3 separate regions of the Homo sapiens genome follow, and regions 1 and 2 are each linked to region 3. Evidence: fine-mapped expression QTL. A gene starts in region 3. Each other region holds a variant in brackets. All regions are shown on one strand. Distances are from middle to middle.

Region 1 (4,171 bases), 39 kb after region 3:
TATACTTGTGTTTTTTGTTTGTTTGTTTGTTTTGAGACAGAGTCTTGCTGTGTCACCCAGCCTGGAGTTCAGTGGCGCGATCTTGGCTCACTGCAACCTTCACCTCCTGGTTTCAAGTGATTGTCATGCCTCAGCCTCCCAGGTAGCTGGAATTACAAGCATGTGCCACCATGCCTGGCTAATTTTTGTATTTTTAGTACAGACGGGGTTTCACCATGATGGCCAGGCTGGTGGCCAGGCTGGTTTTGAACTCCTGACCTCAGGTGATCCGCCCGCTTCAGCCTCCCAAAGTGCTGGGATTACGGGCATGAGCCACGGCACCCAGCCATAACGTGTCATATACTTGTTAGACATACCAGCACCAACCCCATTTTTCTCCCAACGGTCCCCATTCTCTGGCTTCCAGTCTATCTCATTATCAACTCTCTATTGCTTTATAAGAAATCACCGCAAGCCTAGCAGCTTAAAACAGCAGATATTTATTATCTCACAGTTTCCTTGGGTCAGGATTCTGGGCACAGCTTAGCTAGGTCCTCTGCTTAGGGTCTCACAGGGCTGCAGTCAAGGTGTTGGCTGGGCTATGTTCCTATCCAGAGCATGGGGTTCTCTCCCAGTGTCGCATGGTTGATGGAAGAATTCACTTCCTGCAGTTGAAGCACAAAGGTCCCTGCTTTCTTCCTGGCTGTCAGTTGAGGCTGCTCTCAGCTTTAGAGGCTGCCTGCAGTTCCTGCCACCAGCTGTCATGACATGGCAGCTGGTGCCAGTGGGTGACTCTCTAGTCATCTAAGGTGGAGTCTTAGATAACAACATAACCATGGCAGAGATGATACCATCACCTTTGGCACATTGCAAGTCACAGGTACTTCCTGAACTCAAGGAAAAAGGATTATATAAGGACATGACTCACTGGGGGTTACCTTAGGGTGTGTCTGCCAAGTAAGTGATTTCATCCCCTTGGGGAAGGTCTCACTAGTCAGTCCCCTTTTCCTCACTGATTTGCAGCAGCTGCTTGATCACTGCTAGCTCAAAGACATGCTCAAAGCTTGGGAACTTGTTTTCTTTTCATAGTAAGCCACAGAAACTATGAAATTACTTTGTATGCATTAAAAAGTGCTTTCTACTGTATCTAAAGTAAAATATTTTATAAGGAGAAAACTGGTAAAAAAAAAAAAAAAAAAAAAAATCCTAGAGCCTTTACAGAAGCAGAAGAGCCAACTTCATTTTCTTTCCTCTTATTGTTAAAATTAAGTTTCCAGGCCAGAAACAAGGCTCACGCCTGTAATCCTAACACTTTGTGAGGCCAAAGTGGGAGGATTACTTGAGCCCAAGAGTTTGAGACCAGTCTGGACAACATAGGGAGAACCCGTCTCTGTTTTATTTATTTATTTATTTATTTATGAGACAGGGTCTCACTCTGTCGCCCAGGCTGGAGTACAGTGGTGTGATCACAGCTCACTGCAGCCTTGATCTCCTGAGTTCAAGCGATCCTCCCACCTCAGCCTCCCTAGTAGCTGGGACTACAGGCATGTGCCACCAAACCCAGATAATTTACTTTTTGTATTATTATTATTATTGTTATTATTATTATTATTATTATTATTATTATTTTGAGACAGAGTCTTGTTCTGTCACCAGGCTGGAGTGCTGTGGCGCAATCTCAGCTCACTGTAGCCTCCACCTCCCAGGCTCAAGTGATTCTCCTGCCTCAGCCTCCTGAGTAGCTGGGACTACAGGTGCGCGCCACCATGCCCAGCTGAATTTTGTATTTTTAGTAGAGACGGGGTTTCACCACGTTGGCCAGGATGGTCTCTATCTTTTGGCCTCGTGATCCACCTGCCTTGGCTTCTCAAAGTGCTGGGATTCCAGGCGTGAGCCACTGTGTCTGACAGTTTTTTGTATTTCTTATAGAGCTGGGGTTTCACCATGTTCCCCAGGTTTCTTCTATTTTTATATTAAAATATATTTTTTTTAAAGAGAAAAAGTTAAATTTCCAGAAGATGAGCTATAATCAGAGTCCATTTAAATTAATGTTAATACC[A/G]CTTCTATGGAAAGAAAATGTTTAATATTTTAAGCTGAATATCTCGTGTGATCAATGACTGTATACCTTATAAGAAAGACTAACATGGCCGGGCATGGTGGCTCACACCTGTGATCCCAGCACTTTGGGAGGCCGAGGCAAGTGGATCATGAGGTCAGGAGATCGAGACCATCCTGGCTAATACCATGAAACCCTGTCTATACTAAAAACATAAAAAATTAGCTGAGTGTGGTGGCACGCGCCTATAGTTCCAGCTACTCAGGAGGCTGAGGCAGGAGAATCACTTGAACCTGGGAGGTGGAGGTTGCAGTAAGCCAAGATCGCGCTACTGCACTCCAGCCTGGGTGACAGAGCGAGACTCCATCTCAAAAATAAAAATTAAAAATAAAGAAAGACTAATGTTCAGGTTAGATTTTGGGAAGTTCATATGTCATCTCATCCCCCACAAACATTTTATATTTGAAGTTCAGAGACAAAGATCTTAGTTCTGCACCCCAGTTGTATTCCTTTTTTTTTTTTGAGATGGAATCTCGCTCTGTTGCCCAGACGGGAGTGCAGTGATGTGATCTTGTCTCGCTGCAACCTCCACCTCCTGAATTTATGTAATTCTTGTGCCTCAGCAAGTAGTTGGGATTACAGGTGTACACCACCATGCCCATCAAATTTTTGGCATTTTTAGGAGAGACAGGATTTTGCCATGTTGGCCAGGCTGGTCTCAAACTCCTGACCTCAAGTGATCCCCCCATCTCAGCCTCCCAAAGTGCTGGGATTACAGGCATGAGCCACCATGCCCAACCTCTCATGGTGTTAATCAAATCTGATTTCTGTTGTGAAGTTATTGATTTTCAGATACATTATTCAGCTGTGGCTTTTAATAATGGATCTTTTAATAATGGACGCTTGGATGACAGAGTTATAGGATTTAAAATCATCATAATAGTAAATGTTAATAGCATAGTACTCATCAAAGTTGTTCACAGAAGTTCTGCTACATGCACATACCAGCTACCCTATTCTTTTTTTTTTTTTTTTTTGAGATGGAGTCTCGCTCGCTGGGATGCAGTGGCGTGTTCTCGGCTCACTGCAACCTCCACCCCCTGGGTTCAAGCAATTAAATTATCCTGCCTCATCCTCCTGAGTAGCTGGGATTACAGGCACATGCCATCATGCCCGGCTAATTTTTGTATTTTTAGCAGAGACATTGTCTCACTATGTTGGCCAGGCTGGTCTCGAACTCCTGACTTCAAGTGATCTGCCCACATCAGTCTCCCAAAGTACTGGGATTACAGGCGTGAGCCACTGCGCCTGGCCATTTACTCTATCCTTGCATCATCAAATTCTCTCTCTAGACTGGCTTTTTGGCATATAAACATGTGCTAGTACCTCCTATCTTTAAGAACAGTCAAAGACAACAGGCTGGGCACCGTGGCTCATGCCTATAAGCCTGGCACTTTGGGAGGCTGAGGCTGACCAACATGCCAAAACCCCATCTCTACTAAAAATACAAAAATTAGCTGTGTGTAGTGGTGGGCACCTGTAATGCCAGCTACTCTGGAGGCCGCAGGAGAATCACCTGAACCCATGAGGTGGAGGTTGCAGTGAGCCATGATTGCACCACTGCACTCCAGCCTGAGCAATAGAGTAAGACTCTGTCTCAAAAAGAAAAAAAAGAAAAAAAGAAAAAAAACCCCTTTGACTTACCCTTTGGCCTTGCTTTGTACCCGGGATTTGTTTTAATCAGGTATGGTAAGATGACACACATGGAGACAACTGCCCTGTTGAAAGGGAAGTTTATTACTTACAGCTCCAGAGGAGGGGGCACACCATGCCAGGCAGGGCCACATGGGGAAGCACCTGGGTCAGTGGGCGACAGTGGAGAGAGGGAAAGCACGGCCCAGAACTTTTATAGTGATTTCCTCAGGAAGGAATGGGCATGGCATGGCATGGCAGGCAAGTTTGAGCAAGCTTAGGTTAGATAGTTTAAATAATTTTGGCAGGCTCTGTGCTAGAGGAGTGGTCTCTAGTTGGTCAGTACCTGGCCCTGGGGTGATTTAGGGCTGGGAAATTATTGGCTTTGTGTGTGAGCATTAAATGAAGAAGATGATTGGGAATGTGGGCTTTTGATTGGTTGAT
Region 2 (4,171 bases), 21 kb after region 3:
ACAGAAGGAGACCCTGTCTCAAAAAAAAACACACAGGCCAGGCGCAGTGGCTCATGCCTGTAATCCCAACACTTCGGGAGGCTGAGGCGGGCGGATCACGAGGTCAGGAGATCGAGACCATCCTGGCCAACATGGTGAAACCCCATCTCTACTAAAATACAAAAAAAAAAAAATATAGCCGGGCATGGTGGCACACACCTGTAGTCCCAGCTACTTGGGAGGCTGAGGTGGGGGAATTGCTTGAACCTGGGAGGCAGAGGTTGCAGCAAGCCAAGATTGTACCACTGCACTCTAGCCTGGCGACAGAGCGAGACTCCATCTCACACACACACACACACACACACACACACACACACACACACACAAAATGTCCAGTGCCTTGGCCACTGTGTACCAATTAGCATAGATGTCCCATCTTAGCAGGCCTTCCTGTCACACTGCAGAATCAGGGAAACAAGCAGCTCTTGCACTGCAAACTTCACCACTATTGCTCGAGCTCTGGAGACCACTCCAACCCCAAACTGAGAGCTGTAGGTGCCGGGCCTCTGACAGCTTGCCCTGCTCACTTCCGCCTCTGTCCCACAGGGGCGTTCGTGGTCTGCTGGACACCAGGCCAGGTGGTACTGCTCCTGGATGGTTTAGGCTGTGAGTCCTGCAATGTCCTGGCTGTAGAAAAGTACTTCCTACTGTTGGCCGAGGCCAACTCCCTGGTCAATGCTGCTGTGTACTCTTGCCGAGATGCTGAGATGCGCCGCACCTTCCGCCGCCTTCTCTGCTGCGCGTGCCTCCGCCAGTCCACCCGCGAGTCTGTCCACTATACATCCTCTGCCCAGGGAGGTGCCAGCACTCGCATCATGCTTCCCGAGAACGGCCACCCACTGATGGACTCCACCCTTTAGCTACCTTGAACTTCAGCGGTACGCGGCAAGCAACAAATCCACAGCCCCTGATGACTTGTGGGTGCTCCTGGCTCAACCCAACCAACAGGACTGACTGACTGGCAGGACAAGGTCTGGCATGGCACAGCACCACTGCCAGGCCTCCCCAGGCACACCACTCTGCCCAGGGAATGGGGGCTTTGGGTCATCTCCCACTGCCTGGGGGAGTCAGATGGGGTGCAGGAATCTGGCTCTTCAGCCATCTCAGGTTTAGGGGGTTTGTAACAGACATTATTCTGTTTTCACTGCGTATCCTTGGTAAGCCCTGTGGACTGGTTCCTGCTGTGTGATGCTGAGGGTTTTAAGGTGGGGAGAGATAAGGGCTCTCTCGGGCCATGCTACCCGGTATGACTGGGTAATGAGGACAGACTGTGGACACCCCATCTACCTGAGTCTGATTCTTTAGCAGCAGAGACTGAGGGGTGCAGAGTGTGAGCTGGGAAAGGTTTGTGGCTCCTTGCAGCCTCCAGGGACTGGCCTGTCCCCGATAGAATTGAAGCAGTCCACGGGGAGGGGATGATACAAGGAGTAAACCTTTCTTTACACTCTGAGGTCTCCAAAACATTTGTTGTTATCAATTCAGTGTTTCTGTCCCTGTGTCCCGGAATTGTCTACCTTGGCCCAAGTCCAGAAAGGATCTTTCAACATGGTATCTCCTTGGCCCTGTGCTCGCTCTTCTTCAGTCTGGCTGGCTGTTATTCCATCTCTCTCTTTTTTTTTTTTTTTTTTTTTAGACAGAGTCTCACTTTGTAGCCCAGGCTGGAGAGCAGTAGCACAATCTCAGCTCGCTGCAACTTCTACCTCCCAGGTTCCAGATTCTTGTGCCTCAGGAGAAGCTGGGATTACAGGCGCGTGCCACCACGTCCAGCTAATCTCTGTATTTTTATTTTTATTATTTATTTATTTGTTTGTTTATCTTTGAGAGGGAGTCTCGCTCTGTCACCCAGGCTGGAGTGCAGTGGCTTGATCTCAGGTTACTGCAACTTCTGCCTCCTGGGTTCAAGCGATTCTCCTGCCTCAGCTTCCCGAATAGCTGGGTTATAGGCATCTGCCACTACACTCGGCTAATTTTTGTATTATAGTAGAGATGAGGTTTCACCAATGTTGGCCAGGCTCGTCTCAAACTCCTGACCTTGAATGATCCACCC[A/G]CCTCAGCTTCCCAAAGTACTGGGATTACAGGTGTGAGCTACCGCGTGCCTGACTAATCTTTATATTTTTAGTAGAGATGGGGTCCCACCATGTTAGTCAGGCTGGTCTCGAACTCTTGACCTCAAGCGATCCACCTACCCACCTTGGCCTCCCAAAGTGCTGGGATTATAGGCATGAGCCACCACGCCTGGCCCCTCTCTCTTACTGGGGTCTTGAATCTGTTTCTCTCTGCTTCTGTTCTTTGTTTCCCCCATCTGTTGCTCTGCCTCCATCTCACTGCCTGTCTCCCTGTCTTTCTCTGCAGCTCAGAGTAGTGTCTGGACCCTATGAGCCCCCTCCCTCCCCACTGCCCTTTTGTTTGAGCCCTGATGGTTCAAGGTCACGTGCCCAGCCGTTTCTATCCCATTCCCCACCACCTGTATTCATACTTCCAGCCACAGGTTGTGGGGTTCAGGTAGTGGGATGCAGGATTTGAGCATGACCATTTCTCAAGCTCTTCTGATGTGCCTGGCATACTGGTAAACACTTTAGGTGCTTTTTTTTTTAAATTTTTTATTTTTTTGTGATGGAGTGTCACTCTGTCCTCCAGGCTGGAGTGTAGTGGTGCAATCTCGGCTCGCTGCAACCTCCGCCCCCGGGTTTCAAGCGATTCTCCTGCCTCAGCCTCCCAAGTAGTTGCGATTACAGGCACCTGCCACCGTGCCCGGCTAATTTTTGTATTTTTGTTAGAGATGGGGTTTCACCATCTTGGCCAGGCTTATCTTGAACTCCCGACCTTGTGATCCACCCGCCTCGGCCTCTCAAAGTGCTGGGATTACAGGCATGAGCCACTGTGCTGGGCTTTTTTTTTTTTTTTTTTTTGAGACGGAGTCTTGCTCTGTTTCCCAGGCTGGACTGCAATGACGTGATCTCAGCTCACTGCAACCTCTGCCTCCCAGGTTCAAGTGATTCTCCTGCATCAGCCTCCCGGGTAGCTGGGATTACAGGGATATGCCACCACACCCAGCTAAATTTTTTATTTTTAGTAGAGATGGGGTTTCACCATGTTGGCCAGGCTGGTCTCGAACTCCTGACCTCAGGTGAGCCGCCCGCCTCAGCCTCTCAAAGTGCTGGGACTATAGGCGTGAGCCGCCATGCCTGGCCTTTTTTTTTTTTTTTTTTTTTTGAGACAGAGTCTCACATGATCTCAGCTCACTGCAACCTCCGCCCCCTCCAGGTTCAAGCGATTCTTCTGCCTCAGCCTCCCAAGTAGCTGGGACTACAGGCATGCACCACCATGTCTGGCTAATTTTTTGTATTTTAATAGAGATGGGATTTCACCATATTGGCCAGGCTGGTCTTGAACTCCTGACCTCATGATCCGCCTGCTTTGGCCTCCCAAAGTGCTGGGATCAGTCTTTCTGATTTTTATGTGAGAACACTGATTCAGACAGGTTGTGATCTGGCCCATGGTAAACACAGCTTGGAGATGGCACATACAGGCCCCGAGGGACCAGAGAGGCCCCTAGGAAAGGGACTTCAGATTCCCACGAAGCCCAGGGTTGGTCCCAAGCTCAGCTGGGCTTTCCCTACCTCACCCCACAGCACCCAACCCATGAGTGCCAGATCCATCATGAGCCCCCTCTGAGATGCTCAGGGAGGCCCCCTCCAAGGCACAGTGTGTGCCAGGATGTCATTCTCTGCTCCCACCTCACCAGTGAGGAGGTGGGGTTATGTCCCTACTTTTGAATCCCATGCTGAATAACAGCTAGAATTTGAACCCAGGTCACTCAGAGATGTGAGCCGCCATGCCCAGCCACCTGTGCCAAATTCTTAAACCACTGAAATATGCATTGTCAAAGAACCCAAAACTCCCAGGTCCTTCTATATTAAATGGCCCTGGCCGAGCACTTTGAGTGCCAAGGCTGCCAACTAATTTCTATGCAGTAGAGACCCCTGATGACCTCCAAATGGCAACAGTGGGACGGGTGAGGTGGCTCATACCTGTAATCCCAGCACTTTGGGCGGCCGAGGCAGGCAGATCACCTGAGGTCAGAAGTTTGAAACTAGCCTGGCCAACATGGTGAAACCTCATTTCTACTAAA
Region 3 (4,171 bases):
CCTCGGCTCCTCGCCCGACTTCAACAGCCAGTTTGGCCTCGTGGACATCCCTGTGGAGGTCAGTGGCCCTGTGGAGGTGACCCTGGGGCTCAGCTTGATGGGTCCCTCCTATGGCAGTGACCCTGAGCTGGGCTGCAGGTCTCCAGCTCACCATCCCTCCCTGCCCCGACAGTTCAAGCTGGTCATTGCCCAGGTCCTGCTCCTGGACTTCTGCCTGGCGCTCCTGGCCGACCGCGTCCTGCAGTTCTTCCTGGGGACCCCGAAGCTGAAAGTGCCTTCCTGAGATGGCAGTGCTGGTACCCACTGCCCACCCTGGCTGCCGCTGGGCGGGAACCCCAACAGGGCCCCGGGAGGGAACCCTGCCCCCAACCCCCCACAGCAAGGCTGTACAGTCTCGCCCTTGGAAGACTGAGCTGGGACCCCCACAGCCATCCGCTGGCTTGGCCAGCAGAACCAGCCCCAAGCCAGCACCTTTGGTAAATAAAGCAGCATCTGAGATTTTAAAAAGCCCTGCCTCCACCTCGTCTGTGCCACACGGTGTTTGCTGGGGGCTCGGGGACAGAGGGTCACTGAGGAAGGTCCCAGCACCCTCCCCACAGGCGTGTGATGTTGGTGAAACCCTCTGGCACTTTCAGCACTTGAACATGGACTTGTCCCTGCCCAGAGAATTCAGTGCATATTTTCTAGTTTAACAAGCACCCCCATATTTCTGAGGTCTCTTTCACATTTTAACAACTCAGGTGCTGAGAGAAGCCTTAGGATGTGTGATATTTTTTTCTTTCCCATAATACATAACAGCATGCCTTTCTCTCGGGTGGTGTCTGAGACTTGAGGAATATGATCTGCATCATTACAAGTATTGACTCTGTCCGGTGGCTCAAGCCTGTAATCCCAGCACTTTGGGAGGCCAAGGCGGGCCCATCACAAGGTCAGGAGATCGAGACCATCCTGGCTAACACAGTGAAACCCCATCTCTACTAAAAATACAAAAAATTAGCCAGGCATGGTGGCGAGTGCCTGTAGTCCCAGTTACTCGGGAGGCTGAGGCAGGAGAATGGCGTGAACCCAGGAGGTGGAGCTTGCAGTGAGCCGAGATAACGCCACTGCACTCCAGCCTGGGCAACAGAGCGAGACTCCAACTCAAAAGAAAAACAAACAAGTACTGACTCTGTCATGCTCTTTGGGGGCCTGCGCTGCTCTACCATCTCATGTCACAGTCAGGGAGCTCTGGCTGAGCATCAGCCAGGATGTGACCTGGAAACCTGGCTTGGCTCTTAGGTTGATAGTGTTATTCCTTTCAATGGACTCACTCATCACAACTCAAGAACTGCAGAGTAGGCAGCACGGAGCCAGTCAGAGAATCCTTGCCTCCTTAACAGCCAAAGCCTTTGGACACAAAGTTATAAACATACTTTAAAGTCTATTTCCAGCCCCAAAATTCCACTGTGCTGGGGGTGGGAGCATTTTTATAACAGGCGGCTTGTGGCAACCCCAGAGCTGGTGCTTTTGGACAAACCTCCACTCCCTACCTAAAAGGGCTGCTCCCTGGTGTGCTGTAATTGGGGCCTTGAGCCTGATCCAGCTTTGAGGGTCACGGAAGGGGCGTCCCCCAGGCCAGGGGTTCTCCAGCCCGAGTATTAGAATTTTGGTTGGAATCGGACAGAATATCAGGCCTCCACCAGGGGGCGCCATGGCTCCAGCGAGGCCCAGGTGGTTTCAGGGCTCCGAGAGACAACCTGGGCAAGGGGATCACCAGGGTCGCGGGTTGTGGGAGCTCCTGGGAGAGGCCCCCCGGGACAGGTGGACTCTGCAACCATTCAGGGAGGAGGGGGCTGGGGCTCCGTGGGATTTGGGGTAGCACAAAGATCTGAGAGGGAACCTATGGCCCAGATGAAGTCTTAGGATGCCCAGGTCAGGGGCACTGCAGCCTCGAGTGGTCGCTCAGGGGGCCCTGGCCCGACCCAGTTTCAAGCGGCTCAGGTAGAGAAGGGCACTATCAAGGCTTCCGGGCTACGGGGGCGTGGTCTGATGCGGGGGCGTGGCCTCCGCTGGGCAGGGCGACGCGGAACCGAGGCGGCGGCGGCGGCTGCGGCGGCAGGAAATCGGGGCTCGGCCCCGCCGGCGCGCGACCCCATCCCCATCCCGGTCCCTGCAGAGCGATCCCCGGGCCCAGATATGGACGCAGCAGAGCCGGGTAGGGGGTCGGGGATCCGGGAGGGGCCTCCCCCGACCATCCCCTGCTTCCTACATTGAGGGCACACACTTGTCCCGCTCCGTCCTGAGAGCCAGGAGAGGAGTTCCTGAATGGGAAGGACCCAGGGATCCTCCATTGTGGGGAGCCCTGTGCCCGGATGGGTTCAGGACCCCAGCCCTTCACTCCCCCTCCCCCTTTTGATCCCTCACCCCAGACGCCTGGGGGAGGGGGCCCAGGAAGGGGAAGTGACTGCTTCTGCTTCTGATTTTTGTGATGGGGGCAGGGTGCCACGACTGCTGAGGGAGAGGGCAACGCGGTAGGATCCCCACAGGGCCCCTCTGTAGCCCTGGGGAGTCGGCAGTGCTGGTCTAGGCCCCTTAGGAGAGGGGGCAGGGGGGCAGCAGTAGAAATGTGGCGGGGTCCGACTTGGTGTTTCCGGCCGTCTTTGTGTCTGTGTTGTGTATGTGGAGTGTCATTCGGTCTTTATGTCCCTCACGGCTTCAGTCTCTCCATGTGTGTTTCTGCCCCAGGCTCTGCCTGGCTGTCCCTTGTGTATTTCCATCTGTCTAGCCCGTGGTTCCATTGTCAGACCGGCTTTCTTCTCGGGACAGCCTGGTTGCATCTGGGGCATCTGTTTTGTTGGTTTGCTTCTGGGTGCAGGCAGACCCAGGGAGTGGGTGTCTCTGTTCCCCGAGCAGCTGTCTCTGGTCTCTGGTGGTGTGTGAGTCCATCTGCCTGCCTCGAGTTGGCCCCAACCAAGCCCCCCCCAGCCCTCTCTTTCTCTCTCTCACTCTTCCCTTTCTCTTCCACCCCCTCCAAATGAGACTGGTTGAGGTGCCGTGGGTGGAGGGAGGCAGTGGTTAGCCCATGTATTACACTCCCCTCCCCTAGGACTCCCCCCAGGTCCTGAGGGCAGGAAGAGGTACAGTGACATCTTCCGGAGCCTGGACAACCTCGAAATCTCACTGGGGAACGTGTGAGTCTGAGCCTGGATCACCCCCAAATCCTGCCAAGATGCCCCAAGCCCCTAACCATTTAGGTGCCTTGCAGTCCCATTTGGAACCTGTAACATCTGGACCTACATACCTAATAACCAGAGAAGTCTAGGATGGGACCCTCCAAAATGCCTCGGTATCCTAAAAGTGTCCCCCTAAATAGACTGGAAATCCCCAAAGTGGTCCTAGAACCCCTACATATCCTTGTAACCCCTTAAAATATTTGCGATCCCTATAATCCCACTCTATGAACCTCAAAGTTATCTGGGGCCCTTCAGATGCTTTTTCAAGTCCTATTTAAAAAAAACTCACCTGATTCCCCCAAAACACCATTCTTCAGACCTCCCAGACACAAGAGATGCCACAGAGGTGATGTTTGCCACAAACAACCCTAAGGTCCCCAGCACCCCTTGGCAGGACAGACTGGGTGTAAGGTGGCATCCTGACACACCTTTATCCCCCAGGACCCTTGAGATGCTGGCTGGAGACCCTCTACTCTCAGAAGACCCAGAACCTGACAAGACCCCTACAGCCACTGTTGTGAGTGGGGAGTAGGGGAACAGGGAGGAAGACCTCAAGCAGAGGGGGCCTTAGGAAGGCCAGGCCCCTGCCCTGTTTGCTTCTGAATACTGTCTCCCTCCCGCACAGACCAACGAAGCCAGCTGTTGGAGCGGCCCCTCCCCAGAGGGTCCTGTACCCCTCACAGGTAGGGGGGTCTGGAGGCCAGGACAGTGGGGACAGACAGGAGTCTTTCCTTCAACAAATCACCACTGATCCCCTGTTCCATGCAAGGCATCGTTTAGGTTTTGGGAATATGGCAGTACACACAACAGATCTCAGTCCCAGCCCTCAGGGAGACCCCAGGCAGGGTGGAGGCTGAGGTAGGAGGATCACTTGAAGCCAGGAATTCGTGACCATGCTGGGCAACAGTAAGACACCATCCCTACCAAAAGAAAAAATATTTTTTTAATTAGCTGGGTGT

Evidence for each region. PIP is the estimated chance that this variant, and not a neighbour inherited with it, causes the effect. A credible set is the group of variants that fine-mapping cannot tell apart.
Region 1: its variant is the best candidate, but not a certain one, in a credible set for the expression of GMIP in whole blood (INTERVAL, PIP 0.84).
Region 2: its variant is the best candidate, but not a certain one, in a credible set for the expression of GMIP in whole blood (INTERVAL, PIP 0.75).

The regions. Positions count from the first base shown.
Region 1 is chr19:19,602,853-19,607,023 of GRCh38, reverse strand. All of the region lies in intron 1 of PBX4 (PBX homeobox 4), which reads left to right. Among named protein-coding and RNA genes, the nearest start is that of PBX4, 14 kb to the left of the region's middle. The variant A/G (reference allele first, on the strand shown) is at 2,039.
Region 2 is chr19:19,620,984-19,625,154 of GRCh38, reverse strand. It overlaps LPAR2 (lysophosphatidic acid receptor 2), which reads left to right. Exons shown (of 3, transcript NM_001395660.1): 3 at 586-1,500. The coding sequence ends at 899. Among named protein-coding and RNA genes, the nearest start is that of PBX4, 4.4 kb to the right of the region's middle. RefSeq lists a silencer at 1,161-1,455. The variant A/G (reference allele first, on the strand shown) is at 2,087.
Region 3 is chr19:19,641,534-19,645,704 of GRCh38, reverse strand. It overlaps GMIP (GEM interacting protein), which reads left to right and starts at 2,048. Exons shown (of 21, transcript NM_016573.4): 1 at 2,048-2,194; 2 at 3,086-3,170; 3 at 3,654-3,729; 4 at 3,838-3,895. The coding sequence starts at 2,176. ATP13A1 (ATPase 13A1) reads left to right here. Exons shown (of 26, transcript NM_020410.3): 25 at 1-58; 26 at 173-507. The coding sequence ends at 283. RefSeq lists a silencer at 1,955-2,204 and enhancers at 2,835-2,994, 2,216-3,171.